Homo sapiens: one gene and its partners. The protein of the gene in region 1 purifies or fractionates together with the protein of each later gene. This does not show direct contact. Each region holds a gene or a part of one and is shown on either strand. Other genes may lie near its edges. The genes, in order: PRDM5, CCDC77, GLYR1 and PRDM10.

Evidence for each region.
Region 2: the proteins of PRDM5 (region 1) and CCDC77 purify together in Homo sapiens (affinity purification with mass spectrometry; 2 studies listed by BioGRID and IntAct, with this or other methods). This does not show direct contact.
Region 3: the proteins of PRDM5 (region 1) and GLYR1 purify together in Homo sapiens (affinity purification with mass spectrometry; 2 studies listed by BioGRID and IntAct, with this or other methods). This does not show direct contact.
Region 4: the proteins of PRDM5 (region 1) and PRDM10 purify together in Homo sapiens (affinity purification with mass spectrometry; 2 studies listed by BioGRID and IntAct, with this or other methods). This does not show direct contact.

What each region holds. Positions count from the first base shown.
Region 1 is NC_000004.12:120,814,704-120,821,730, reverse strand, and holds part of PRDM5 (PR domain zinc finger protein 5), read left to right. Parts: intron 1-385; coding exon 386-560; intron 561-3,203; coding exon 3,204-3,378; intron 3,379-4,806; coding exon 4,807-4,899; intron 4,900-4,911; exon of another isoform or gene 4,912-5,107; intron 5,108-5,156; coding exon 5,157-5,278; intron 5,279-7,027. UniProt on the Homo sapiens protein: Sequence-specific DNA-binding transcription factor. Represses transcription at least in part by recruitment of the histone methyltransferase EHMT2/G9A and histone deacetylases such as HDAC1.
Region 2 is NC_000012.12:411,623-418,649, forward strand, and holds part of CCDC77 (coiled-coil domain-containing protein 77), read left to right. Parts: intron 1-124; coding exon 125-356; intron 357-6,871; coding exon 6,872-7,014; intron 7,015-7,027.
Region 3 is NC_000016.10:4,837,284-4,844,310, reverse strand, and holds part of GLYR1 (cytokine-like nuclear factor N-PAC), read left to right. Parts: intron 1-708; exon of another isoform or gene 709-907; intron 908-2,920; exon of another isoform or gene 2,921-4,059; intron 4,060-4,631; exon of another isoform or gene 4,632-5,068; intron 5,069-7,027. UniProt on the Homo sapiens protein: Cytokine-like nuclear factor with chromatin gene reader activity involved in chromatin modification and regulation of gene expression. Acts as a nucleosome-destabilizing factor that is recruited to genes during transcriptional activation.
Region 4 is NC_000011.10:129,908,818-129,915,844, reverse strand, and holds part of PRDM10 (PR domain zinc finger protein 10), read left to right. Parts: coding exon 1-185; intron 186-826; coding exon 827-1,141; intron 1,142-3,619; coding exon 3,620-3,760; intron 3,761-5,188; coding exon 5,189-5,369; intron 5,370-7,027.

The DNA of each region.
Region 1 (7,027 bases):
GTGTTAATAATAACGAAATCATTGATATCTCATTGCTCTCTGTCTGCATGTGTGAATGACACTGTTGCATGACAACTACATTTATAGGCCACCACAAAGTGTTGCTTGCATAAGGCCAGTTAGTGATGCAAAATTCACTTTAAAAATTGAACATAATTTCATTTGACATGTGTAAATGTCACTTTTTGTCATATGTATTTGTATTTTATTTGCCAGGTAACTGAATATTGTCACCTGCCTTTTTCAGCACCCAGATCAACTAGAAATAAAAAAAAGTAATAACTTTTCATGCACACATAGTACTCCATTAATGTATCTTAAAATTATTTCTTAATTACTATCAGAAACAAATGAATGGTTCAGCATTTAAAAAAATTTGTTTCAGGAAGGAGAAAACATTTTCTATTTGGCAGTTGAAGATATAGAAACAGACACGGAGCTTCTGATTGGCTACCTGGATAGTGACATGGAGGCTGAGGAGGAAGAACAGCAAATTATGACAGTCATCAAAGAAGGGGAAGTTGAAAATTCTAGAAGACAATCAACAGCGGGCAGAAAAGGTATTGCATCTTTAATTGGTGATCTGGGAGAAGAAAAGTTGTAGAAAAAAGTGTAGTTTAAACTGTGGTTGAATTATAGTTGCCTTGTAATATGGCATTCTCAAATAAAGTTAGTTTTTGTCAAAATTATTCTCGAGGGTATCCTGTGGTGGACTCATCTTTGTTACAGCAGGAAAAGTATTTTGGGAGTGGGTGATGGATGTACCCTATAGGACTGCCTAGGCCGCAGGCAGGGCTGCATTGCTAGGGCAGCTCCCGGCTCTCACTGCTCTCACTGGCGCATTGGGGTAATGAGTAGTGAGGATTTTTATAGTCTTGCCATAGCTCTGCCACTAATCAGTCTTGTAACGTTGGGCAAGTTGCTGACTTTCTGAGACTTTACTTTCTCATCTGCATATAGGAAAAGGTGAGAGTGGAGGTGAGGTACACAAGAGAGCCTGCTGGATCCGAAGGGGATTGATTCCTCTTGTTTGGGATCTTTTGGGAACCTGCAGCTTCTTGGCATCTCTTTCTGTTCTGATCACAGAAGCCTGGAGGATTGCTAGGTTGCCCTAGTGTGGTTACCAAAAACTTTCAGTGACCGTAGGTCAGACCTTCCTCAGTCAATACTGCAGCCACTTGCTTGTTAACTGCCAGGGAATAATCAATTATTATTGGCCTTGTTTCTATTATGTTGTGTTTTACTCCTAAGGGAAATTTAAGGGATATATGAATGATGCTATAGGTATTCACATTTTGTAATAGGCCTCGTCTTTATCCTTTCAGGCTGTTATAACAAAATACTTTAGACTAGATACTTGGTAAGCAGCAGAAATTTATTGCTTACGTTTCTGGAGCCTAGGAAGTCTATCAAGGTGCCAGCAGATTTGGTGTCTGGTGAGGGCCCGTTTCTAATTAGATAGCACCTTCTAGCTGTGTCCTCATGTGACAGAAGGGACAAGCAAGCTCTCTTGGGCTTCTTTTACAAGGGCATTAAGCCCATACATGAGGACACAGTGCTCATAACCTAATCATCTCCTAAAGGGCCCACCTCTTAATACAATTCCATTGCGGTTTCAGTTTCAACGTATGAATTTTGGGGATTCACGAACATTCAGACCATAGCAGGCTGATACTTACTATACAGTACTTTTCCATTTTGTGTAGCAAAGCCACTTCAGAAGTGATACTGGTTTCATTAGTCAAAGTGGTAGTATGCTTTTCCTGTACTTTTTCTGTTCTAACTGCATGTTATTGGCTGAGAAAGTGTGAACATTCTGTCACCATTGCCAGCTTATGCTTCTGTTTCTTTATTTTAGTTGAATTATTTAAGGGGAAGATAAGGACAGGCTTATATGCATTATGCTATTTGGAATATCATATTTTGGGTGATGGGAATTATTTCTGTGTTATTCTGTGTTTTCTTTGTTTTTGTATTTTATTTTTTCCCTGTTGTCCCCAGGGCAAGTTATTTTATCCATTATTTTAATTTAAAAATAAGTAATCTACTTACCTATTACTGCCCTGATTTCTGCTTTAGTTATTAAAATACCAGTTTTCATTATCTTTGTAAAAAGAATCAACAGAAACTTAAACAGAATTTTTTAAACACATGAACCAAGCACTTGCATTGTGGCTATTTTGGTTTTTTTAAAATTTTATTTTATTATTATTATACTTTAAGTTTTAGGGTACATGTGCACAATGTGCAGGTTTGTTACATATGTATACATGTGCCATGTGCCATGTGCCATGGCTATTTTTATTTTAGAATTCTTAGTTTTATTTAGAAAAGCAAAGAAACAAAATAAAAACAAACAGCAAAAGAAACAAGCCACCCAAATGTCTAACAATGAAGAGTTTGGTTAAATAAATTGTGGTACTTTAAGTTTAAAAATATGCCAACATTTGACTTGAGAAGATGTTAAATGGGAAAACATATAAAATTGTATATAAAGTATGATCCCAAATTTACCTCTTCTTAGACTGCGCATAAAATATGTATGCACTAAAGGCAAGTCAGGCTTGCCAGTAATATTATGACAGTTGTCTCTTCCTGATGGGATTATTGGTGTTTTTTATTTTCTGCATTTTCTAAGTCTAATTTTATTTTATAATCAGAAACAAATGTGTAATTTAAATAGCACGCTGAGAAATTTGGTCAGACCTGCACCAGTCTATATGGGACCGTGTAGCATAATTCACTCTACTAGCTTAATCAGCACTGTTTTTATGACCTTGGTCTTTTTTCACATGTATGTGAGATTCTCCTTGGTAATTCAATATAGTTTGCATCAGTTGGATTTTTCTCCTTGTGAAGGTAAAAATGAGCTAAAAATGACCAATTTCAGGAATAGCTTTTGTTTTCTAATTTAACATTTTGATCTGAAAAGTTAACATTATAGGATGAATTAAATAAGGAATTTGACTTTGTATTAATTTGGTGAAATACAAGTGATTTTGAAAATAATGTATTTCTCTCTAGTAACACTTGCTATTATTTTTTTGTGGCCAAATACTATTAATATTTATAGTGATAATAAGAATTTATTCATATGGTATCATTAAGCACAATTAATTAATTAATTTAAAATGAGAGCAAAACTGAGCATTTCTTGGCTCTGAATTTTTGTCTCATGAATATGTTTCCTTGTGAATGTGCAGATCGCCTTGGCTGTAAAGAGGACTATGCTTGTCCTCAATGTGAATCGAGTTTTACCAGTGAGGATATTCTTGCTGAGCATCTCCAGACATTGCACCAGAAACCCACAGAGGAGAAAGAATTTAAGTGCAAGAACTGTGGGAAGAAATTCCCAGTTAAGCAGGCTTTGCAAAGACAGTGCGTATATTAAAGAAATATCTTTAAAATTATAAGCTAACACAGTTTATTCCATTCAGCTTAACTCATAGTTTTTAACCTGTGTGTGTGTGTGTGCACGCGCGCACGCGCATGTTTTGTGTGTGAATGAGAGATTAAGCATTTTACATTGGTATTGTCATTAACTCATCTTTTCTTAGTATAGTATGTTGATTATTAAAATATTCAAATTATGGATTTTAACACATAAACACTGTTTATGGTAATTAGTTTTTGTCCATTTATTAATTTGCCATTATGTATCAAGCTTACTGGTTTAATCTGAAATTCAGATATGCCTACTTTAGTTACTCCTTTGAGGTAACAGACTTTTAGTTGTCTACGTTTTATATTCCTTCTGGAATCTGTTTAAAAAAAAGTTTAAGAAATGGGGAGTTCAAAGTATAAAGAATTCCTGGACATTTTGGGAAGCACTGTTTATTTGAGAGCAACTTTGGAGGAATAATTTAAAGATGCATAGGTCCCAGTTATAACAATATGATTAATTAGATGATCCCACACATAGCTCTGTACCCTTTTTTATTTTAACAATTTATATTAACAACATAAAATTATCTTTATTTAAATATTTTACAGGATCAGAAATTGTTAAAAGTGAGAAAGTAGGTATATGCATTTGTAAAGTTTTATTTTTTTACTCATTAAAGTTTGTAATTTTAATCAGATAATTGAATTTAAGTAATTTAAAAGCATATTTACATATTGGATGCAACTGTAGACTCTCATTGTGTTGAAGCCAATTACTTCCAATATGAAAGTAATGTAAATTGTCCCATCTCATCAACATATCTCTTCTCTTATGTGCTCCCATCCTGCCATTTACTTTCTTTCTCCAACCTTAGCTTCTCATTTTAACAGAATGTTACCTTACTTATGAGCAAGAAATCTTTAACATAGGCTTTAATGTTACATTTTTACATTTTTGTGTTTCATTGAACTAAAATTCTGAAATATGCTACATTTCATACTAAGACTGTATGAATATTATTATATGCATCAACTTTTGCTTATAAAAATTGAGATGAAAATTGTGCTTAAAACTTAATAAATGTTCAGAATATCAAAACTTTTATAATAGCAGGATACTACATATTTAGAAATTCTATTGTACTTCCTTAAAAAACAAGCAAGGACTATATGCTTTTAAATAAATAGATGTTAAGTTGCATTCTGGTTAGCTTTTATTGCATTTAGTATTATATATTTATACAAAAGACACTGCTGAGCAAGAGCTTATAGTTAAGGTACTGCTAAAAATTTAAAAAGGCAAAAGACAATGAAAAAAGGGATCACGAACATGACTTTATTCAGAGTTAGTGTAGTTTCATTTTTGTCTTAGAGTTCCAGTTTTTGTTTTCTTTTCTTTCTCTTTTTCCTATTTCCCTTTAGTGTTCTTCAGTGCACAGCGAAAAGCAGTCTAAAGGAGTCTTCGCGAAGTTTTCAGTGCTCTGTTTGCAATTCTTCCTTCAGTTCAGCATCGAGGTTTTGTGTCTGAGTTATGAAATGGCTGTTATATAATTGTGGGTCATTTTTTGCATGCATACTTTCATGCTTCTTAGTAATTCAGTTTCACATACCTACAGAATTTAAATGCTTTTCTTCTTACCTGCATAGGTAATGCATGGAATGACCCCGAAACTCTACTAGGGAGCATGTATTACAAAATCTTGCTGATGTTTGAGTTTTGTAGGTATGTCTTCACCATTTCTTCCTGTTCCGCTTTGCTGGTTGTCTTGTAGTTTTGAGCAGCACCAGGAGACTTGCCGGGGGGATGCCAGGTTTGTGTGCAAGGCTGACAGCTGTGGAAAGAGGCTGAAGAGCAAGGATGCCCTGAAAAGACACCAGGAAAATGTCCACACTGGTGAGGAGTCGTTGGAGGGTCGTTTCCGAAGGGGCTTCCTTTCCCCAGGCTGCAGCGATCTGTTTTTAATTCTCGCTCTTGAGGAGAGAGCTGGCTTTTCCATTGTGTTTCACACAGATGTGGAGCGCTGGCAGTGGATTTTTTTCTTTCACTGAACACTATTTCTTTCTCAGGTTGAATTTAGCAGCATTTGTTCTTTTTCCCATTCCTGAATTAATTATAACTGTAAGCCTTAGTTAAAGTCTAGTTATGTTTGGGTGGTCAGATGCATTAAGAATTAATATTTTTAAGTAACAATTTTAAATGTTTTGGCATGTGACATTTCTTTTATAAATTGTTAAAATTTATCATTATTAAGTGATGTCCTTCTGCCTTATTATTTTTACAGTAAAAATCCAACTTGTGAAAATACAGTTCTCCTAAGTTAGAGAAAATTGCTAACACATTTTGACATTGGAATTGAATATGTATGGATTAACAAAACAAATATTATTTGAATTCCATCTGATAGCTAGCTAAACAATAAAACAAATATAAAATTTGACTGTCTTTTGGGTTTATCTGCTTAGCACATGGTATACTGTCAGTAAATATATTTTGGCTTAGGGATTAAATCTATTGCAGTGAGTTGAACAGATGGCTGTATTGTCTCAGTTAACTTTTTACTTCTTGTCTTTTTACCTCCAAAGACTTCCTCCTTAAAGGAGGTTGAGATTTATGAAACCCTGTGTGTTCTTCTCTTCATATTCTTTGTTCATGTGTTTATTTTTGCCCTTGACTTCTGGGAAATGGGTGGCTATGTGTCTCTGGATGTGGGGGAAAGTGGATTTCTTTTCTCCCTTCAGTTGTTTATTCTTATATTCAGGAGAAGATGATAATCTGCACCCAGCATCTGTATCCTGTATTTGTTCATTGTCCAAAAAGTATTCACTTTAATAATAATACAGTTATAGAGGCTAGCGTGAACAACTGCTAGCTGCGACTTTGCATCATTGGTTTGGGCTGCATATTAAGTGCAACCTATGGTGAAAGCTCTGTGTGGTGGAAGTAGGGCCTTGTGAAATGCACCTCCAGCTTGGTGCCCTTCACTAGGCTTTTACAGTGTTCTGGTTTCTTTCTTTCCTTTTGAAGAATACACAGCTGACTTAGGGAAGATGGATTTTTTTCTGAATTCAGTATACTGGGGTCTTCCCTATGATTGCAAAAGGCAAGCATAACTTTTTGATAGACTTGCCTTCGTAGTTTTTTGATTTTCAATGCTGTTCTAGTTAAAATGCTATTCTTAATTTTCTTCATCTATGTCTGCAATATATTGTAATAGAACTTTCATGTCAGTTTTAAAGCTTAAGTTTGCTGAACTAAGTAAAAAACCAGATGCATACGAAACTCTGGAGACTTGCATTCTTATTACTGGGCATGTTGTCTTCAGGCTGTGCTATAAGCACAATGTCTTTGAGGCTTCTTGTAGTTGGCCTTGCATATTGTAATATTATTAATTCTGGAAATTTATGGTGATTTTGTAGGAAATAATTCATAAAAGGAAATCTTGTTTTATATATATTTTTTAATTTGTGGACCATATAAAGTGTAAAATCTTGCTGTATTTTAGCTAACGGTTACTATGCCATATGTTTTGCTGGGGTTGGTACATGATGTCATTCTCTCATTCACAGTATGTCTCTTGCTTCTCCCCTTTCCTCCATGGGCTGCACAGGCATTGGAGGAAAGAATATTCCCTATTGGAGATAG
Region 2 (7,027 bases), on another chromosome or scaffold:
TCCAAATTTATGAGCACCTTAATTATAAGCACTTTGGGAACACAAAACCCCCTTTTATTTAGGAAGTTATAACTCATAAACTTTCGCAGAGTGTGATGAATATATCATTTCTAATTTCACGTAGGCGAACAGTTGTCTCCAAACGTGGTGTTGCCGTCAGTGGTCCCACCAAGAGGAGGGGAATGGCAGATTCACTGGAGTCAACCCCCTTGCCTTCCCCCGAAGATCGTCTGGCCAAACTCCATCCTTCTAAGGAGCTCCTGGAATATTATCAAAAGAAGATGGCTGAGTGTGAGGCAGAAAATGAGGACTTGCTGAAGAAACTGGAACTCTACAAAGAAGCTTGTGAAGGACAGGTAAAGAAACGATGCTGCTGCTTTAGAACTCTGATGGAGTCTTCATAAATTAGAGATGCCCTACAAGTGCCAGTTTATATCAGAAGCAGATGTTTTATAAAAATACTCCTTTTTTATTCCCCAGCCCAGCTATTGCCCCTTCAGGCCCTCCTTGGATCATAACCCCCAAAACTGCCCTTCCTCTCAAATCTTAAATTCTGACATCTCCATATCTCTTATACCTAGTTCTTTCATCTCCTTGTACCTGAGTAGTCCTTAACTTCTTTGTTACCTCCATAGCTTCCTGACTTTTCAGTTTTCTGAGTGCTGTATATAGCTCTGATATCAAGTCCTTCAAACCTAAACCCCATGATGCTTTACTTGAGTAGTAACTGCAGTGCCTGCAAATGACCCCTTGCTCAATTATTCTTCTGCTCCACCTGCATAGCAAAAACTGAGCTGTGGCATCATCCAGTTCTCTGCCACGTGTTCTCCTATAGCAGGATTTCTTAACCTCGGCATTATTGACATTTTGGCCTGGATGATTCTTTGTTGTGAGGGGTTGTCCTGTGCGTGATGGGATGTTTAGCAGGATCCCTGGCCTCTACCCGCTGGATGCCAGTAACACAACACCCCCAGCTGTGACAATCAAGAATCTCTCCAGACATTGCCAGATGTTTCTGGAATGGGTGTATGGATGTGCAGAGTCACTCCTGATTGAGAACACTGTTGTAGAAAGGTCACAAATCAGTACAGAATGAATCGATGGTAAACAAATTCAGCTGTACCCTCAACCATTATACAGCAGTCTTCTCACCTATCCTTACTGGCTTTCCTCTCCTTCCACATCTGTGCCATACCCTCACCTCTAGCCTGCAACCCCTTCTTAGCCCTCCTCTCTCAACATCTTTTCTGCCATCTGCACACCGTTACTCCATCCGTATCTATCTCCTTCTTCCTTCCTTTGTTTTTTCTCTGGTTGCTTTTCTTTTTTTTTTTGAGACGGAGTCTCGCTCTGTCGCCCAGGCTGGAGTGCAGTGGCGCGATCTCAGCTCACCACAAGCTCCGCCTCCCGGGTTCATGCCATTCTCCTGCCTCAGCCTCCCGAGTAGCTGGGACTGCAGGCGCCCGCAACCATGCCTGGCTAATTTTTTGTACTTTTAGTAGAGACGGGGTTTCACCGTGTTAGCCAGGATGGTCTCAATCTCCTGACCTCGTGATCTGCCCACCTCGGCCTCCCAAAGTGCTGGGATTACAGGAGTGAGCAACCGTGCCCGGCCTGTTTTTTTGTTTTTTTGAGACAGCGTCTTACTCTGTCGCCCAGGCTGGAGTGCAGTGGCGCGATCTCAGCTCACTGCAAGCTCCGCCTCCCGGGTTCACGCCATTCTCCTGCCTCAGCCTCCCGAGTAGCTGGGACTACTGGTGCCTGCCACCATGCCCAGCTAATTTTTTTGTATTTTTTTAGTAGAGACAGGGTTTCACCGTGTTAGCCAGGATGGTCTCGATCGCCTGACCTCGTGATCCACCCGCCTCGGCCTCCTAAAGTGCTGGGATTTCAGGCATGAGCCACTGCGCCCGGCCTCTCTAGCTACTCTTTTTATATAAATGGCTCTTTCTTTTCCCAGTCACACTTCCAGAATCTTTTGACTTTCCCATTCACTGAATGGGATTTTTTTTTTTTTTTTTTTGAGACGGAGTCTCGCTCTGTCGCCCAGGCTGGAGTGCAGTGACGCAACCTCAGCTCACTGCAAGCTCTGCCTCCTGGGTTCAAGCAATTCTCCTGCCTCAGCCTCCCGAGTAGCTGGGATTACAGGTGCACGCCACCACACCTGGCTAATTTTTTGTATTTTAGTAGAGGCAGGGTTTCACTGTGTTGCCCAGGCTGGTCTCAAACACCTGAGTTCAGGCAACCTGCCTGCCTCGGCCTTCCAAAGTGCTGGGATTACAGGCGTGAGCCACCGCGCCCAGCTGGGAAATGTCTTGACTGCAGTTTCATCTCGGTCCTTGCCATGCCACTAAAACCGTGCCGTCTGCGGTCTCCAAATACCTGTTTACCAAACTTTTCTCTTTTTGCCCTTTGCAGTGTCTGTCACTTTTGACCTCTCTTTTTCTAAAATTTTCTTCCTTTCTTGATTTCCTTTTTTTTTTTTTTGAGACGGAGTCTCACCCTGTCTGCCAGGCTGGAGTGCAATGGCACAATCTCGGCTCACTGCAACCCCTGTCTCCCGGGTTCAAACGATTCTCCTACCTCAGCCTCCCAAATAGCTGGGATTATAGGTGCCCACCACCACACCTAACTAATTTTTGTATTTTTAGTAGAGGTGGGTTTTCACCATGTTGGCCAAGCTCATCTCAAACTCCTGACCTTGTGATCCGCTTGCCTTGGCCTCCTGAAGTGCTGGGATTACAGGCGTGAGCCTGGCCTCCTTTCTTGATTTCTGTGTCATTTTTCTTTCACAATTTCTATCTAACCTCTCTGATCAGCTCATCTCAGTGTCCATTAACAACTCTCTTTCCTTACTCTTAAATTTCAGAGTTCTTCCAGATTCTACTATAAATGACCTTGTTTTATCCTTGTATTACACTTCTGCATACGGGATGATGACTGTTAAATAACTAACCCTGACTCACTTTTCTCCTGAGGCTCCTTTCTCTACCCTCCCTTCCCCACCCGCACATGTACTGCCACCATTTCGCCTTCCTCCGTTTCTCATGCCTTAACTTTTTCTTTATTCTTTGTCTTGGCAAATGGCATCATTGCCTACGGTTCTTCCAGTCCCCCTAAACCGAATCATTTGGCAAGTCCTGTTGATTCTGCTTCCTAAATATTACTTAATCCATTCCCACACCCACCTCACTTTGGCCACGATGCTCACACAGACCCTTGAGTTGCGTCTAAACTGTGACGGTGTCCTCCTTGCCAGTACCTGCCTCTGGCCTCTTACATCCCCAGTTGGCCTCACACTTTTCACTCTAGCAGTACTGAAATATTTGTACTTGTCCAAATTTAATAGGCTTTTGTTTTTTGGAGGTTTACTTGTCATTTTTATCACATTATGTATGTATACAATGAATTACAGGGTAATTCATTCCATTTGGGCTCCTGGATAGCTTCAGGATGGGAGCTGGTTGCCAGATGGCAGTGATGCAGCATCTCTGAATACATTTACTGGGACACAGTGTGAGCCACCGTGCCCAGCCTAATTGTTTTTGTAGATTCTACAAAAAAAGTGTTTCCAACCTTTTGAGTTCCACTGTGGACTTGTATGCTCTCCCTTTCTCTGAATCAGTTGTTAATATTTATTAACATAATTATTAACATAATATTATGTTAATATAATCAACATAATATTATGTTAATATAATCAACATAATATTATGTTAATATAATCAACATAATATTATGTTAATATAATCAACATAATATTATGTTAATATAATCAACATAATATGTTGATATTATTAACATAATTAACATAATAATATGTTAATATTAACATAATTATTAACATAATAATATGTTGATATTATTAACATAATTATTAACATAATATGTTAATATTAACATAATTATTAACATAATAATATGTTGATATTATTAACATAATAATATGTTAATAAAAATGTAATAAATATTTTTATCACATTATGTATGTATCTATAGACCTCTGGGTTTTTTGTTTTTTGTTTTTTGAGTTAGGGTCTTGCCCTGTTGCCCAGGCTGGAGTGCAGTGGTGCGATCATAGCTCACTGCAGCCTCAACGTCCTGGACTCAAGCAATCCGCCTGCCTCAGCCTCCCAAGTAGCTGGGACTACAGGCATGTATCACCATGCCCAGCTAATTTTTTATTTTTTATTTTATTTTGAGATGAAGTCTTGCTCTTGTCACCCAGGCTGGAGTGCAGTGGCACAATCTCGGCTCACTACAACCTCCGCCTCCCAGGTTCAAGCAATTCTCCTGCCTCAGCCTCCTGAGTAGCTGGGATTATAGGCGCCCACCACCATGCCCGGCTAATTTTTGTACTTTTAGTAGGGACTGGATTTCACCATGTTGGCCAGGGTGGTCTTGAACGCCTGACCACAGATGACCCATCTGGCTCGGCCTCCCAAGGTGCTGAGATTACAGGTGTGAGCCACTGCACCCTGCCCAATTTTTTATTTTTTGTAAAGACAGAATCTCGCTCTGTTGTCTAGGATGGTCTTGAACTCCTGGGCTCAAGCCATCCTCCCACTTTAACCTCCCAAAGTGTTGGGATTACGGGCGTGAGTCACTGTGCCCAGCCTTTATGAAATTATTTTTAATGACCTTGCCCAATTTTAAGTGTTCAGTTGAGTAGTGTTAAGTGTTTATGTGTGTGTGTGTGTGTGAGTCTGTGGGTGTGTGGGGGTGTGTGTGTGTGTGTGTGTGTGTGTGTGTGTGTATATATATATATATATATATATATATATATATATATATTTCTTTTTTTTTTTTTTGGAGGCAGTCTGGCTCTTTCACCCAGGCTAGAGTGCAGTGGTGCCATCTCAGCTCCCTGCAACCTCCGCTTCCTGGGTTTAAGCAATTGTCCTGCCTCAGCCTCCCAAGTAGCTGGGATTATAGGGTGCGCCACCACACTCAGCTGATTTTTGTTTTTTTGGTAGAGATGGGGTTTTGCCATGTTGGTCAGGCTGGTCTTGAACTCGTGGCCTCAAGTGATCTGCCACGCCTGGCGTGTTAAGTATATTCACATTGTTGTGTGACTGATCTCTAGAACGTTTTCATTTTACAAAACCAAAACTCCATCCCATTAAACAGATCATTTCTCCCCACACTCCCTGTAACCACTATTTTACTTGCTATTTCTATGAATTAGAAATAGAGCAGGATTTGTCAGGCATGGTGGCTCGTGCCTGTAATCCCAGCACTTTGGGAGGCCGAGGCCGGCGGATCACCTGGGGTCAGGAGTTCGAGGCCGGCGGATCACCTGGGGTCAGGAGTTCGAGACCAGCCTGACCAACATGGCAAAACCTGTCTCTATTAAAAATACAAAAATTAGCTAGGCGTGGTGGCACATACCTGTAGTCCCAGCTACTTAGGAGGCTGAGGCAGAAGAATCGCCAAGGAGGTGGAGGTTGCAGTGAGCTGAGATCACACCACTGCATTCCAGCCTGGACGACAGAGCAAGGCTCTGTCTCAAAAAAAAAAAAAAAATAGAGCAGGATTTATTTAGAATAGAGTGGAATCATACTGTAGTTTTTCTTTTTGTAACTGACTTATTTCACTTAGCATAATGTCCTCAAGTTTCGTCTGTGTTGTAGCATGTGATGAGATTGTCTTCCTTTCTGACAACATCAGGCTCTCTCATGGTTCTTATTTACAGTTCTCTTTTCTTGGAGTACCAACTGTCTGCTTCTCTCTCTACCCATCTTCTGTTCATCTGTCAAGTGTCAGCTCTTGGGTGGTAGCGCTTTGATTTCCCAAACAGATCTCAGAATGTTTATTCCTGCCACGCTTTCCCCCACACCATTTCACCATGCATGCTTTCATGAAGTAATTATTTTATTTTAATCATTTGCCTCTCTCCCCATGAAATTCCGTAGCTCTGTAGACAGGAATCGTATCTTTTCATCTTTGTTTTCCTGCATGTCATAATAATGCTTATGATATAGGAAACATTACTAAAAAAGTGTGGATAGGCTAGGTGTGGTGGCTCACGCCTGTAATCCCAGCACTTTGGGAGGCCAAGGTGGGTGGATTGCCTGAGCTCAGGAGTTCAAGCCAGCCTGGCCAAAATGGTGAAACCCCGTCTCTACTAAAATTAGCTGGGCGTGGTGCACACCTGTAATCCCAGCTACTCAGGAGGCTGAGACAGAAGAATCACTTGAACCTGGGAGGTGGAGGTTGCAGTGAGCTAAGATCATGCCACCGCATTCCAGCCTGGGCGACAGAGTGAGACTCTGTCTCAAAAAAAAAAAGTGTGGATAGAATAGGTGAGTCGTACAGCATTCTGGATTCTATAGTCTGTAAAAGGAAGATGTGAGAGCTTTGATGTTAAATGCAAACTTCACACTCATCCTGTAGCTGTTAAACTCCAGTCAAGGCTGGGCATGGTGGCTCGTGCCTATAATCCCAGTACTTTGGGAGACTGAGGCGGGTGGATCACTTGAGGTCAGGAGTTTGAGACTAGCCTGCCCAACATGGCGAAACCCCATCTCTACTAAAAATACAAAAATTAGCCGGGCATGGTGGCATGCACCTGTAATCTCAGCTACTCGGGAGGCTGAGGCACAAGAATCACCTAGAAGGTGGAGGTTGCAGTGAGCTGAGATCGTGCCACTGCACTACAGCCTGGGCAACAGAGCAAGACTTGGTCTCAATAAATAAAAAAACAAACAAACTCCAGTCTATACATGCCTATTGCTGTCATTTGAATTCTGTATTGGCAAAATTATTTACTTTGGAATATTTCTACATGAGTAGACTCCTCCCTATCCAGTGAGAGATACTCCATTGAAACCCAGTGTCTTTCAACTATCTTATTGTGGTTTTTTTGCAGCATAAACTTGAATGTGATTTGCAGCAGAGGGAGGAAGAGATTGCTGAATTGCAGAAAGCTCTAAGTGATATGCAGGTCTGCCTCTTCCAGGAACGGGAACATGTTTTACGCCTCTACTCAGAAAATGACCGACTGAGAATCAGGTACCAAATAGGA
Region 3 (7,027 bases), on another chromosome or scaffold:
CCAGATCTGTCCTAAGTTGGGGAAACCAGGACCATTAATCTGAGACTCTGACCATATAACATGTTACAGTGACGGGAAGAACGTGAAGAACCTGTATTAACTTGAGTTGCTAGTGATTTGTTTAGCTTTTTATCACTATGTCAAGTGGCTTACCTGGGTCTAGCTAGATGGTTTGATTTTTTTTTTTTTTTTTTTTTGAGATGGAGTTTCACTCTGTCACCCAGGCTGGAGTGCAGTGGCATGATCTCAGCTCACTGCAACCTCCACCTCTCGGGTACAAGTGATTCTGGTGCCTGAGCCTCCCGAGTAGCTGGGACTACAGGCGCACACCACCACACCCGGCTAATTGTTTTATATTTTTTAGTAGAGACGGGGTTTCACCATGTTGGCCAGGCTGGTCTCAAACTCCTGACCTCAAGTCATCTGCCCCTCCCCCCCCCAACCCCCTCAGCCTCCCAAAGTGCTGGGATTACAGGCAAGAGCCACCATGCCCAGCCGGTTTGATTTCTTTAAGTAGTTGTATTTCTATTTATTATTCTTATAGGAAAATACAGCCTTAGATTTGAAAAAAATGTCTGTGGCTTCTCTGGTAAATCTAATTCTGACGGTTAAAGTATTTCTACTTAGAAAGCGATATATTATAAACAGTATTCTTCACTCATCCAGGAGTTTATATGTCAGATGCTCTTCCTGGTTTCATGTTTACAGATAGACCCAGCCCCATTTCTCTATCACAAGCCAGCTTAGCAGCCTGTGGTGGCAGTATTTCAAGGAGATCGCTGGCCTGGAGCTGTGGAGCCAGAGCTTCTGGAAGAGGGAATGTTCTTAGAACTCCATGGATTTAAAAAGAAGATTTGGCCGGGCATGGTGCCTCAGGCCTGCAATCCCAGTACTTTGGGAGGCCAAGGTGGGTGGATCACTGGAGGTCATGAGTTCGAGACCATCCTGGCCAACATGGCAAAACCCCGTCTCTACAAAAAATACAAAAATTAGCCAGGAGTGTTGGCGTCTACCTGTAATCCCAGCTACTTGGGAGGCTGAGGCTCGAGAATTGCCTGAACCCAGGAGGCAGAGATTGTTCGAGACCCTGCACTCCAGCATGGGTGACAGACTGAGACTATGTCTCAGAAAAGAAAAAGAAAAACAGGAAAGATTGTCCTCATGCATAACATCAGTGTTATGTGTCCACTTTCTGAATTGCTTGACACTGAGGGAATTTATAAGAAAGCAAGTATTATAGTTCCCACCTTCCAGATGCTCAGTCAAGTGACAAGTTGTAAACATTTCAGATAAGATGATGTGCACAATGATGGTCGGGCATGGTGGCTCATGCCTGTAACCCCAGCACTTTGGGAGGCCGGGGCAGGCAGATTGCTTAACGCCAGGAATTTGAGAACAGCCTGGCCAACATGGTGAAACCCTGTCTCTACTAAAAATACAAAAATTAGTCGGGTGTGGTGGTGCACACCTATAATCCCAGCTACTCAGGAAGCTGAGGCAGTAGAATTGGTTGAACCTGGGATGCGGAGGTTGCAGTGAGCTGAGATCGCGCCACTGCACTCCAGTCTGGGTGACAGAGCGAGACTCTGTCTCAAAAAATAAATAAAGATTATGTGCAGAATGAATGATGGCAGATAATTGTTAATTCTAGGCTGGGCACAGTGGCTCATGCCTGTAATCCCAGCACTTTGGGAGGCCAAGACAGGAGGATTGCTTGAGCCCAGGAGCCGGAGACCAGCCTGGACAACATAGCAAGACCTTGTCTCTACTTAAAAAAATAAATTTTTTTTTTCAATAGCCAGGCATGGTGGCACACAAGTGTAGTCCCAGGTATGCAGAAGGCTAAGGCAGGAGGATTGCTTGAGCCCAGGAGGTCAAAACTGCAGTGAGCCATGATCACAATATTGCACTCCAGTCTGGGTGACAGAGCTAGACCCTGTCTTAAAAAGAAAAAGAATTCTAGAAGAGGGAGAGCTCAGTGGAGAGCCATGAGAACCAAGAAGACTGACTGAAGAGATGGGATTTGTTTTTCTGTTTGTTTTTTTTTGTTGTTGTTTTTTTTTTTTTGAAACGGAGTCTCGCTCTGTCGCCCAGGCTGGAGTGCAGTGGCGCGATCTTGGCTCACTACAAGCTCCACCTCCCGGGTTCATGCCATTCTCCTGCCTCAGCCTCCCGAGTAGCTGGGACTACAGGCGCACACCACCATGCCCAGCTAATTTTTGTTGTATTTTTCAGTAGAGGCAGGGTTTCACCATGTTAGCCAAGATGGTCTTGATCTCCTGACCTCGTGATCTGCCCGCCTCGGCCTCCCAAAGTGCTGGGATTACAGGCGTGAGCCATCGCACTCAGCCAGAGATGGGATTTGAATCCAGCTCTGGAAGATACATAGAATCTGGATGGATGGGGACTATAGGGGCATTTCAGACAGTGGGGATACCATGAACAATTGGCATTAAGCTGGGTGTTATGGAAAGGAAGAGGCTCCCTGCCTGAGGTAACTTGTGCTTAGGAATAACAGAGGCAATATGGTTGGCCCAAACTTCATTAGCTAAATGAATAATTACACAAGTCTGAAACAAAAATGGGAACTCAGTCTCATAAGGAGCCTGAAAGCCATTGTTTCCTTATGTTTTTTGTTGTTGTTGTTGTTGTTGTTGTTCTTGTTTGGTTTCTTGATTTTTTTTTGAGAAAGGGTTGGAGTGCAGTATCACGGACATGGCTTACTGCATCCTTGACTTCCCAGGCTCAGGTAATCCTCCCACCTCAGCAGTCCGAGTAGCTGGGACCACAGTTGTGTGCCACCATGCCCTGCTAAATTTTTTACTTTTTTTTTTTTTTTTTTTTTTTTTTTTTGTAGAGACAAGTTCTCGCCATGTTTCCCAGGCTGGTCGCAAACTCCTGGGCTCAAGTGATCCTCCCACCTCGGCCTCCCGAAGTACTGGCATTATGGGCATGAGCCACAGCGCCGAGCCCCGATTTTTTTTTTAATGCTAAAAGACTAGATTAATAAACTGTGATCCTTGTTTATAACAAGTGCTAGAAATAGGACACAGAAAATTGGAGTTGAGTTAATTTCAGAGCTTAACCAGGCAAACAGGTGAAGCCAGTGGTGATGTGCTTGCTCAAGACAAAAATAGCCTGGATGGTGGTGGTGATGATATAATTTCTAACTGACGAAGGTTCTTTGGAGGGTTGTAAACAAGTGGGATACAAAGCAACTGCTAAATGCAATATTTTTAACTTTTTAAACTCCTTTGCTAGAGTTCTACATTTTAAACTATAAAAATGAAGTCACTGTGGTACTAATGTGTTATCTTTTTGTGGGTAGGCAGTTAACTTAGAGAAAGGAAATAAAGGGTAAAGATGTACAGTACTTCTCTAAAGAAGGAACACTTCCTTAGTGATCAGTGCTGGGGCAGATTTTATTTTGTGTTTTTCTATGAAGGTAAGATCTCCAGATTGGCTGGTGGCAGCAGATTACTTTGGGGAAAGAGCTCTGGATTGGTTACCAGCCTAATGTGCATTCAGGTACCGGTTCCACCTTGCTCCCTGATTTGGGCAAGCTATTTCACCTTTCTGAGCCTCTGTGTCCTCTACATAAGGGGATGATACCCCCTACCTCATAGTTAGGAAGGAAAAGTAGTATCTCTTGTGTAGAGTGTGGCTTGCCATACAGCAGGTATTAGCACACATTGGTCCAGGATGCCTTTAAGTATGGAAAACTGAGAGAGATGGAGACTCTCCCTATGGGAGAGAGAGAGAGTGTGTGTGTGTGTGTTTGTTTGAAAAGAAAGGAATATGAGAGTTGGAAGTTCCTAAAGGATGTCAGCCAGGTTTGCTCTTTTTACCAAAAAGGCTTTGAGTACAAAACCATGCATCATTCCACCTTTATGTAAAACTGTATGCGCCTCATCAGGAATACTCTATGGACTTCAGATCATGCTTTCAAAGGGATCTCTTAGAATTGGCCAAGATCCAGAAAAGGGAACTGAGTCAGACAAAAGAGCAGGACTCTTCAATGTGGAAAAGCAAAGACTGAAGGAATCACGGGATCAGGAGGTAGGAAACAGCGAATGGCCTAGAGGAGTTTGGCGATGGGCACTGCAAGTGGATTGTGGTATGACTGTGTTAGGACCAGGGTGAGGAGCACTGCATAAAAGGGGCGTTTAAGAGGTGGTGTAAACAGGTATTGCAAGGGGATTTTTTAGGGATGAGAACTAACTTGTGAAGACAAAGCCATAAGTGGCTCCTGTAGAAGCTGGACTGCACCTCGCCTTTAACACTTGACATCAGGGAGGGGGCATGTGGTCCAGGCACATCCTGGGTGGGGGCACCATTGGTTACTGGACCCTGGCCCAGGTGGATAGGGTCTGACCCAGTGGAGTGTCCTCCGTTCCTGAGAAATACAGGATTTGGTCAAAGATGTTCAGTTTCAAAATTGACACACTACTTAGGCAAAAAAAAGTGTAGTTATACTTTTTTAATATTTGCAAGGTCTTTTATTAAAGAGCAGAAAGAACGGCTCCTTATGACAAGATAATCAGTGATTACAATCTTTTAGAAACCTGATTTTTCTCTCTCCACATCTCTGCCAAAATATCTAACAAATTGTGTTGACATCCCACTGTTAGGAGAGGGCCAGACCTTCCTAATCAGGTGTCCTGGTGAGAGGAGGACTTCTTTATACGGATTCGGCTCCCTGAGCGAGATGGCCAAGACAAAACTGCCCACGTAATTTTTGTATTTTCATGGAAATACGAAGGGGATATAATTTCAGCAAAACCCTGCCAGCTTCACTTGGTGACTACAACCAAAGATTATGTGTCAAGTGCACGAGGGTCCCTCTCTGACAGGTCTGATTAGTGGTGACCCCCCCATCAGAGTAGAGACAGAGCTCACGGTTTAAAAGTTTCATCGGGGCCAGGCGTGATGGCTCACACCCGTAATCCCAACACTTCAAGAGGCAGAGGCAGAAGCATCACTCAAGCCTAAGAGTTCAAGGCCAGCCTGGGTAACATGGCAAGACCCATCTCTACAAAAAATTTAAAAATAAAAAATTTAAAGCTACCATGCCGGCTTGTTCTCACCTTTATACTCTATGCTTGTGTGTGTGTTTGTGTGTGTGTGTGTGCTTTTTCTCTGTCTGTCTCCCTCCCCCTGCCATCTTCTCCCCGCCCTTTCTCCTTTTCTCTTTCTCTTAGCTTCACGGCTTCAGCCCAGGTCACCTGTCTATCCGAAGGCTGAAACACAGGTGAGAGGGTTCATGCGTAGTAGCATGTACCTGTAGTCTCAGCTACTTGGGAGACTGAAGCAGAAGGATCGCTTGAGCCTGGGAGGTCAAGGCTACAGTGAACTGTGATTGAGGCACTGTATTCCAGCCTGGGTGACAGAGCAGGACCCTGTCTTTTAAAAAAGAAGAGTTTTGGCCAGGCACGGTGGCTCACATCTGTAATCCCAGAACTTTCAAAGGGCAAGTCAGGCGGATCACGAGGTCAGGAGATCAAGACCATGCTGGCTAACATGGTGAAACCCCGTCTCTCCTAAAAATACAAAAAAATTAGCTGGGCGTGGTGGCGGGCACCTGTAGTCCCAGCTACTCGGGTGGCTGAGGCAGGAGAATGGCGTGAACCCCAGAGGCAGAGCTTGCCGTAAGTCGAGATCGCGCCACTGCACTCCAGCCTGGGCAACAGAGTGAGACTCTGTCTCAAAAAAAAAAAAAGAAAAGTTTCATCAGTGGCTGTGGATGATGATGGAATGGAGGGAGTGTTCATTTAAATTACAGGTGCTTAGAAGCCACCAGAAACCAACCGGTTCAACAGATTGTGGACAAACAGTGGAGAAGCTGCAAGTGCCTACCTGCGAGTTTCCATAGCAGTCTTCCCCTCCAGTCCTCACAGCAGCCCTTTCAGGAAGTGCACAGGGTCATCTTTCTGGTTCTTATTTTTTCACAGATGAGGAAACTGAGAGACCAGTGGTCCTTTTCCACCAAGCCACATCTAAGGTGGACCGGTCTCGCTGGATGTGAGGTGTCTGAGTCAGTACTGAAAGTAGCTGCTCTAGAAGAATATGTGGTTAATAATTAGAAGCATAGCAGCTTGGAAGCATCCCTTTTTCGTTTCACCTGGCACCTGATTTGTGTGTGTTTTTTTCTGGTGCCTTTATTTCTGAAGAACTTGGCCTGTAACACCTCAGTAATCTTCAGCCCCTTTGGATGGATTTTTTTTAAAAAGGCACCCATAGAAATTGTTTACTAAGTATTCACCAAATCCAAATGGAGAAGCAAACCCACACCTTCTGGCCCCATCTTTGTTCTCACCTGTATTTTTATTCTTATCTTTATTTATTTATTTATTTATTTATTTATTTATTTATTTATTTTTTGAGATGGAGTCTCGCTCTGTCGCCAGGCTGGAATGCAGTGGCACGATCTTGGCTCACTGCAACCTCCGCCTCCTGGGTTCAAGCGATTATCCTGCCTCAGCCTCCGGAGTAGCTGGGATTACAGGCGCATGCCACCGCACCTAGCTAATTTTGTATTTTTAGTAGAGACAGGGTTTCACCGTGTTGGCCAGGGTGGTCTCAATCTCTTGACCTCGGCCTCCCAAAGTGCTAGGATTATAGGCGTGAGCTACCGTGCCGGCTTGTTCTCACCTTTATACTCTATGCTTGTGTGTGTGTGCTTTTTCTCTGTCTGTCTCCCTCCCCCTGCCATCTTCTCCCCGTCCTTTCTCCTTTTCTCTTTCTCTTAGCTTCACGGCTTCACCCCGGGTCACCTGTCTATGTGAAGGCTGAAACACATGTGACAGCGTTCAAGATTAGTCATAGGCTGACATCTTTAATATACAGTATCTACATGTATGATTTTCTTTTTTTTTTTTTAAAGACCAAGTCTTGCTCTGTCGCCCATGCTGGAGTGCAGTAGCACGATCTGCACTCACTACAACCTCCACCTCCCGGGTTCAAGCAGTTCCTGCCGCAGCCTCCTAAGTAGCTGGGATTACAGACGTGTGCTACCACAACTGGCTAA
Region 4 (7,027 bases), on another chromosome or scaffold:
GCAAGCGCAAAGCCCACATTCTGAAGAACCACCCAGGAGCAGAGCTCCCACCGAGCATTCGGAAGCTCCGACCCGCTGGTCCTGGAGAGCCAGACCCCATGCTGAGCACACACACCCAGCTGACGGGCACCATCGCCACCCCTCCCGTCTGCTGTCCCCACTGCTCCAAGCAGTACAGCAGCAAGGTAGGGGGAGTTTCTGACTAAAGCTAAGGTCAAAACCGCCATGCGAGGAATCTCTTAAGGAAAGGTGGCTTCTCATCCACATGGCCTGGATGGCTCCTTCTGAGTTGACGGGGGACTGAAAGAGATGTTGTCCTAGTCACTGTAAACAGAGAGCACAGCAGAGAATGGAAAGAGGATACTGTGGACCTCCCCAGAATTAGTGCCGTACAGCAGCCCGAGCAGCTGGCTGTTTTCCTTTTCCCTTGGCCTGCGGAGGGCCTCACGTTTGAATGTTCTGTGCTTGCAGTTGGTGAGTTCAGGCTTTTGGAAGCACCACATAGAAAGTTACGTGGTGGCTTTACAAAGGAGGTCATTTTGGCTGGGGGGATTGTGATTGATTGCTGCAGGTACTATTTGGGGGGGGTATTGAGACCTTGCTGATGGTGTGAGGTCAGGTGAGGTTTTACTTCTTCCCCACCCTCTTCCCTGCTTTCATAGCATTATGTTACCCCAGGAAGTACAGGCATAGAGTCAGTGTTGCTCTGATTTTTCTTTTTTTAAGACATAAAAGACTTTAGGAATCTTTGGAGGATTTACATATGAGAAAAACGGAAAATCACAAATTCTAATAATTATTCTTGTTTTTTGCCTTGCTTTTTCAGACCAAGATGGTCCAGCACATTCGAAAGAAGCATCCAGAGTTCGCCCAGCTCTCCAACACCATACACACACCACTGACGACAGCTGTGATCAGTGCCACCCCAGCGGTTTTGACTACAGACAGCGCCACTGGAGAGACTGTGGTGACGACGGACCTGCTCACCCAAGCAATGACAGAACTGTCCCAGACCTTAACGACAGACTACCGAACGCCACAAGGGGATTACCAGAGAATTCAGTACATCCCTGTGTCGCAGTCGGCGTCTGGCCTCCAGCAGCCTCAGCACATACAGCTGCAAGTGGTTCAAGTGGCCTCGGTACTGCGTGCCTTGGTTTCCCTTTGCCTTATGAATGCCGTGTTGCCACTAGCACCTCATTCTCAGAGCTGGGGCTGGGATCTATGTAATGTCCTTCTGCGTGGAAGTTCTGAGCCTTGGGCATTTTACAACTGCCCCTTCCCCTTTCAGGCTGATGAGGCCTCTGGCCTTAGCAATGTAAGAGATTTCTGTCTATAGTAGTCAGGAAATTTTAGGTTCCAGCATATACAAGCCTCCTGTGCTGTGGCAGGACAGTAGCCACAGCACCTGTTTCTGACCCTCTTCTGATCCTTATCTTTAACCATCCTGGTTGGCTGCTTGGTAATGAGCCAGTTTGATAAATCACGACCTGCGTATCAAATGTCTTATATCAAAGAGAGGTCATAAAGCATAATATTGATGGCTGGGCGCAGTGGCTCATGCCTGTAATCCCAGCACTTTTGGGAGGCTGAGGCGGGCAGATCACTTGAGGTCAGGAGTTCGAGACCAGCCTGGCCAACATGGCAAAATCTCGTCTCTACTAAAAATACAAAAATTAGCTGGGCATGGTGGCGGATGCCTGTAATCCCAGCTACTCAGGAAGCTGGGGCAGGAGAATTGCTTGAACCTGGGAGGCGGAGGTTGCAGTGAGCTGAGATCACACCATTGCACTCCAGCCTGGGCGACAGAACAGGACTCAAAAAAAAAAATTGAGTCAATCTCTGCATATCAGTCAGTGCCTTTGTAGTATAGAGGTATAACTGTGTTCCTTCTACCAGATAATGAATAACTCATTCTTATTGACTAAGGAACTAAATGAAAGTGATTCTCCCAGAACTATTGTTTCATTTAATTACACTGAGGAGAAGTGTCCCCAAGGCACAAATGAACAAACTTGTTGCTTTGAAATCATTTGGTCTCTGAAAATTTAAAACTAACATGGGGACAGGAAATTGGAAGTTGCCACTGTCGTTGACTATTCTTTGTCTTGTTTTTCTTATGGAGGGTTTTTAACTTCAGGCTTTGGAGGAAGCTATATGAGTCCCTGAAGTTGCCTGTAAATTATGATGTATAGGTACATTGTTCTAGAAAAAGGGCCTGTACTTTAGCTACTTTTTCAAAGATGTTTATGATATATAAAAGGTTAAGAACCACTGTCATAGTGGGTTAATGGTGACAAACTAAAAACGAATTTCTTTGATCTCTTTTAATTGATAAAGGGTAGATCATTAAATGTAACTGAAATTTTTGATTCCTGACAACTTCTTTTTCAGCTTATTGTCAGGAACTATCTTCCCTCTCTCTCCTTCTCTTCCAGAATCTAATAGTGGCTTATGTGTGAGAAGCATATTTCTCTAAACGCTCTTTTTTTATCCTGTTGTATGGCGTGTTCTAGGTGTGGGCTATCTGCGAGTGCAGCATTGGAGCTGAAATCCCTTCCATTCTTCTATTTCTGTTGGCATATATTGGGATATTGTTTTTGGTTTTTTTTTTTTTTTTTTTTTGGAGACAGGGTCTCACTATTGTCACCCAGGCTGGAGTGCAGTGGCACAATCATGGCTCACTGCAACCTCCGCCTCCCAGGCTCAGATATTCCTCCCACCTCAGCCTCATCAGTAGCTCGGATTACAGGCATGCCACCATGCCTGGCTATTTTTTTTTTTTGAGATGGAGTCTCGCTCTGTTGCCCGGGCTAGAGTCCAGTGGCACGAATTCAGCTCACTGCAACCTCTGCCTCCCAGGTTCAAGTGATTCTTCTGCCTTAGCCTCCTGAGTAGCTGGGATTACAGGTGCTCGCCACCACACCCAGCTAATTTTTGTATTTTTAGTGGAGACAGGGTTTCACCACATTGGTCAGGCTTGTCTTGAACTCCTGACCTCAAGTGATCCCCCCGCCTCAGCCTCCCAAAGTGCTGGGATTACAGGGGTGAGCCACTGCACCCTGCTGCCTGACTAATTTTTTTTTTTTTTTCGAGATGGAGTCTCGCTCTGTCGCCCAGGCTGGAGTGCAGTGGTGCAATCCCAGCTCACTGCAAGCTCCGCCTCCCAGGTTCACGCCATTCTCCTGCCTCAGCCTCCCTAGTAGCTGGGACTACAGGTGCCTGCCGCCACACCCAGCTAATTTTTTTGTATTTTCAGTAGAGACGGGGTTTCACCATGTTAGCCAGGACGGTCTCGATCTCCTGACCTCGTGATCCACCCGCCTTGGCCTCCCAAAGTGCTGGGATTACAGGCGTGAGCCACGGCGCCCGGCCATTCACCTGACTAATTTTTGTATTTTTTGTAGAGACAGGGTTTTGCCATGTTGCCCAGGCTGGTCTCGAACTCCTGGGCTCAAGCGATACACCCGCTTTGGCCTCCCAAACTGCTGGGTTTATAGGCATGAGCCACTGCACCCGGCCAGGATATTGTTTTTAACTGAACCTTTTCTCTGGAAGGATTTCCCTTAACTTCAATCAATATATGTCTGGTTTCTGGGCCTGTTTTTTCTCCTTCCAGGCCACTTCCCCTCACCAGTCACAGCAGTCCACTGTGGATGTTGGCCAGCTCCATGATCCTCAGCCCTACCCCCAGCACGCCATCCAGGTGCAGCACATCCAGGTCAGCGAGCCTACCGCCTCGGCCCCGTCCTCCGCCCAGGTACCCTGCTCCACAGACTATTTGGAGGTGTTATCATGGCTTCAGGGATTATCAGAGTTAATGAGAGGGAAGACATTCTCTTCAGACCTAGTCTCCTCAGCTACTGTTATTTTTGGATTTTTATTAAAGGATCTTACCTTTGCCTCCAATTTTTATATTGGCATTGTGGACACATATTAAGCTGTTAGCTGCTTCTGCCCTCATAGAGTCCTGTGGTACGACATCCTAGAAACAACAGTGGTCTTTGCTTTCATTCTAAATGCAATGGCTAAGTGGCTTCTATGATTTGGAACAGTGGCTTTCTGGAGTATTATGGTATATTTTATGTTACTGTGTTTGTATGCTTGAGTCTGGAATTGAGATACATAGATAAGTTCTCAGAGTTCAGAGAGGGAGAGATTAGGTTTAGGAGGGAATCCAGGACATTTTTTAGAAGAAGTGGTCTTTGAGGTCTTGAAGGAGGGGTACAGTTCTGACATAGTCGTTGGGGAAGGCAGTCTGATCTGAAGAAGCTCATGCTGCAATGGAAAATGTACATTTATAGAAAACAGGGTTATTCTGTTTAGATTACTCACAGGAAATGATGTTTGGAAAGGAAGTTGGGAGGGTAGTTTGGAGCAGGATTGCAGTGTGGCAGGCTGGAGAGCGCTGGCCTCATCCTGTTATCAGGAGTGGGCCTCTTCACCCACCTGTGCTGAACTCCACCAGCCAGGTGGGATTTGCCAGTACTGGTGAATGGAAACGATGAACTTTGGGTTTCATTTCATTTTGTGTTCCAGATTAGCTTTGTGACACAGGCAAGTTACTTCACCTCCCATTATTTTTAAACTTATAGAATGTAGGTAATTATATTTTCTTTCATTTATCTTTCCAACAGTTGATTGAAATTAATTTTTTTGCATACTCTGGTAGAGAATCCTTTGAAAGCAAATTAGAATTTCATAGTTATGCTTGCTTTTCATTGAGTTTATTCTTATTTAAAATATTACTTTTAATAATAGCAATGATAGGCCAGGCGTTGTGTCTCATGCCTGTAATCCCAGCACTTTGGGAGGCCGAGGCGGGTGGATCACCTGAGGTCGGGAGTTCGAGACCAGCCTGACCAACCTGGAGAAACCCCTTCTCTACTAAAAATACAAAATTAGCTGGGTGGGTTGGCACATGCCTGTAATCCTAGCTACTCGCGAGGCTGAGGCAGGAGAATCACTTGAACTCAGGAGGCGGAGGTTGCGGTGAGCCGAGATCATGCCGTTGCACTCCAGCCTGGGCAATAAGAGTGAAACTCCATCTCAAAAGAAAAAAAAAATAGCAACGATAGTTTCAGTATTATAATTCATATGAGTCTGGTGTACTTCCTTCAGTTATTTGTGAGTCTTCACTATATTAGAAGCTCGTAATTCCCTACCATTGCTTTCTCTTTCTCCCCAGGTATCTGGGCAGCCGTTGAGTCCCTCAGCCCAGCAGGCTCAGCAGGGGCTCAGCCCCTCCCACATCCAGGGCAGTTCTTCCACACAGGGGCAGGCTCTGCAGCAGCAGCAGCAGCAGCAGCAGAATTCCTCTGTGCAGCACACGTACCTGCCCAGTGCTTGGAATTCCTTCCGTGGCTATTGTAAGTAAGAAGGGACGATGCCGTGTCGGTCAGGGGTGGGGGATCTCCAGCCATGTGTCATAATTTCTTCAGCTTGTGATAGATTTTTAAAGTATCTCTTGGCCATTGTTTACACTCTCTATGAATGTACTTCAATGGGTTTCATGACAAAACTCAAGGTGTAGCATTCCGCTTTCACAGAGCTACCCTGATAGGACATTTTCGAAACGTCAGGTATATTGCTGGAGGAAATGTAGCTATGAAATTAAATAGTAAGATAGTTGGATATAGCTTATGTTGAGTCATCCCTTCCACCAATATTTGTAGAATGCCTGTCTATCAATCGCTGTACTAGACACTGGCTATGCCAAGATTAATATTCTCATTAGTATCGGTAACACCACACAATAATAATGTTAACCAGCTTTCATTAAGCTCTTACTACATTGCCAGGAATGATTCCGAACCATATATATCACAGTCAGTATTCACAACAACCTATAAGATAAGTACAATTGTTATTTGCATTTTACAGATAAGGCAATTTCCACACACTCACTTTTCCAAGAGCTAGTAAACAGAGGATTGGAACCCAGGCAGTTTGGCTTCAGAGTGTCCACTCTAAACCACCCCACTGTGCAGCTGACCATCATCTAGTAAAGGAGGGAGATAGAAGAGTCGTTGATTCCAAAGCCCTGAGATTCGTGCTGTGGAAACAGTAGCAGGCTGGCTGACAGAGGTCGGGGCAGGTAAACCCCTTGGTGGGGAAACAGCTTTGGGGCAGGCCAGGAAGTATGAGACCTTTCTCATGGAAGGTGTGGAAGGAATAGGAGTAGACTTTAACAGACCTCAGTAGTAGAAACTAGGAGGAAGAGGTGCTGAGAAGGGAAAGGGTCGGTATTGATCTTTCTTCTACTGTTGATTTATTTTTGGGGGCCCGTCTTTGTCATGATTGATCCTTGGCTATGTTACATAGATTTGCTATGGAGTCAGGCTCAAACTCTACCGTCTAGTTATTTTTACAATCAATATTCTTTTTTTTTTTTTGAGATGGGGTCTCGCTCTGTCACCCAGGCTGGAGTGCAGTGGCACAATCGCGGCTCACTGCAACCTCCGCCTCCCGGGTTCAAGTGATTCTCCTGCCTCAGCCTCTTGAGTAGCTGGGATTACAGGCACCCGCCACCACGCCCAGCTAATTTTTGTATTTTTAGTAGAGACGGGGTTTCACCATGTTTGCCAGGCTGATCTCGAACTCCGGACCTCAGGTGATCCGCCCACTTCAGCCTCTCAAAGTGCTGGAATTACAGGCATGAGCCACTGTGCCCGGCCACAAACTATACTCTTAAACATTGGACGTCACATTGAGGGCTGGGTCTAGTTTCCAGTCAGGGACTCTCTTACCACTAGAATCTGGTGAATAGACTGACCTCTGTACTCAGTGTAATTCCTGTGAAAGAGAGTGGAGCGGGCCAGGCGTGGTGGCTCATGCCTGCAATCCTAGCACTTTGGGAGGCCGAGGTGGGCGGATCACTTGAGGTCAGGAGTTTGAGACCAGCCTGGCCAACATGGTGAAACCCCATCTCTATTAAAAACACAAAAAAAATTAGCCACGTCTGGTGGCGGATGCCTGTAATCTCAGCTACTCAGGAGGCTGAGGCAGAAAGATCATGCCACTGCAC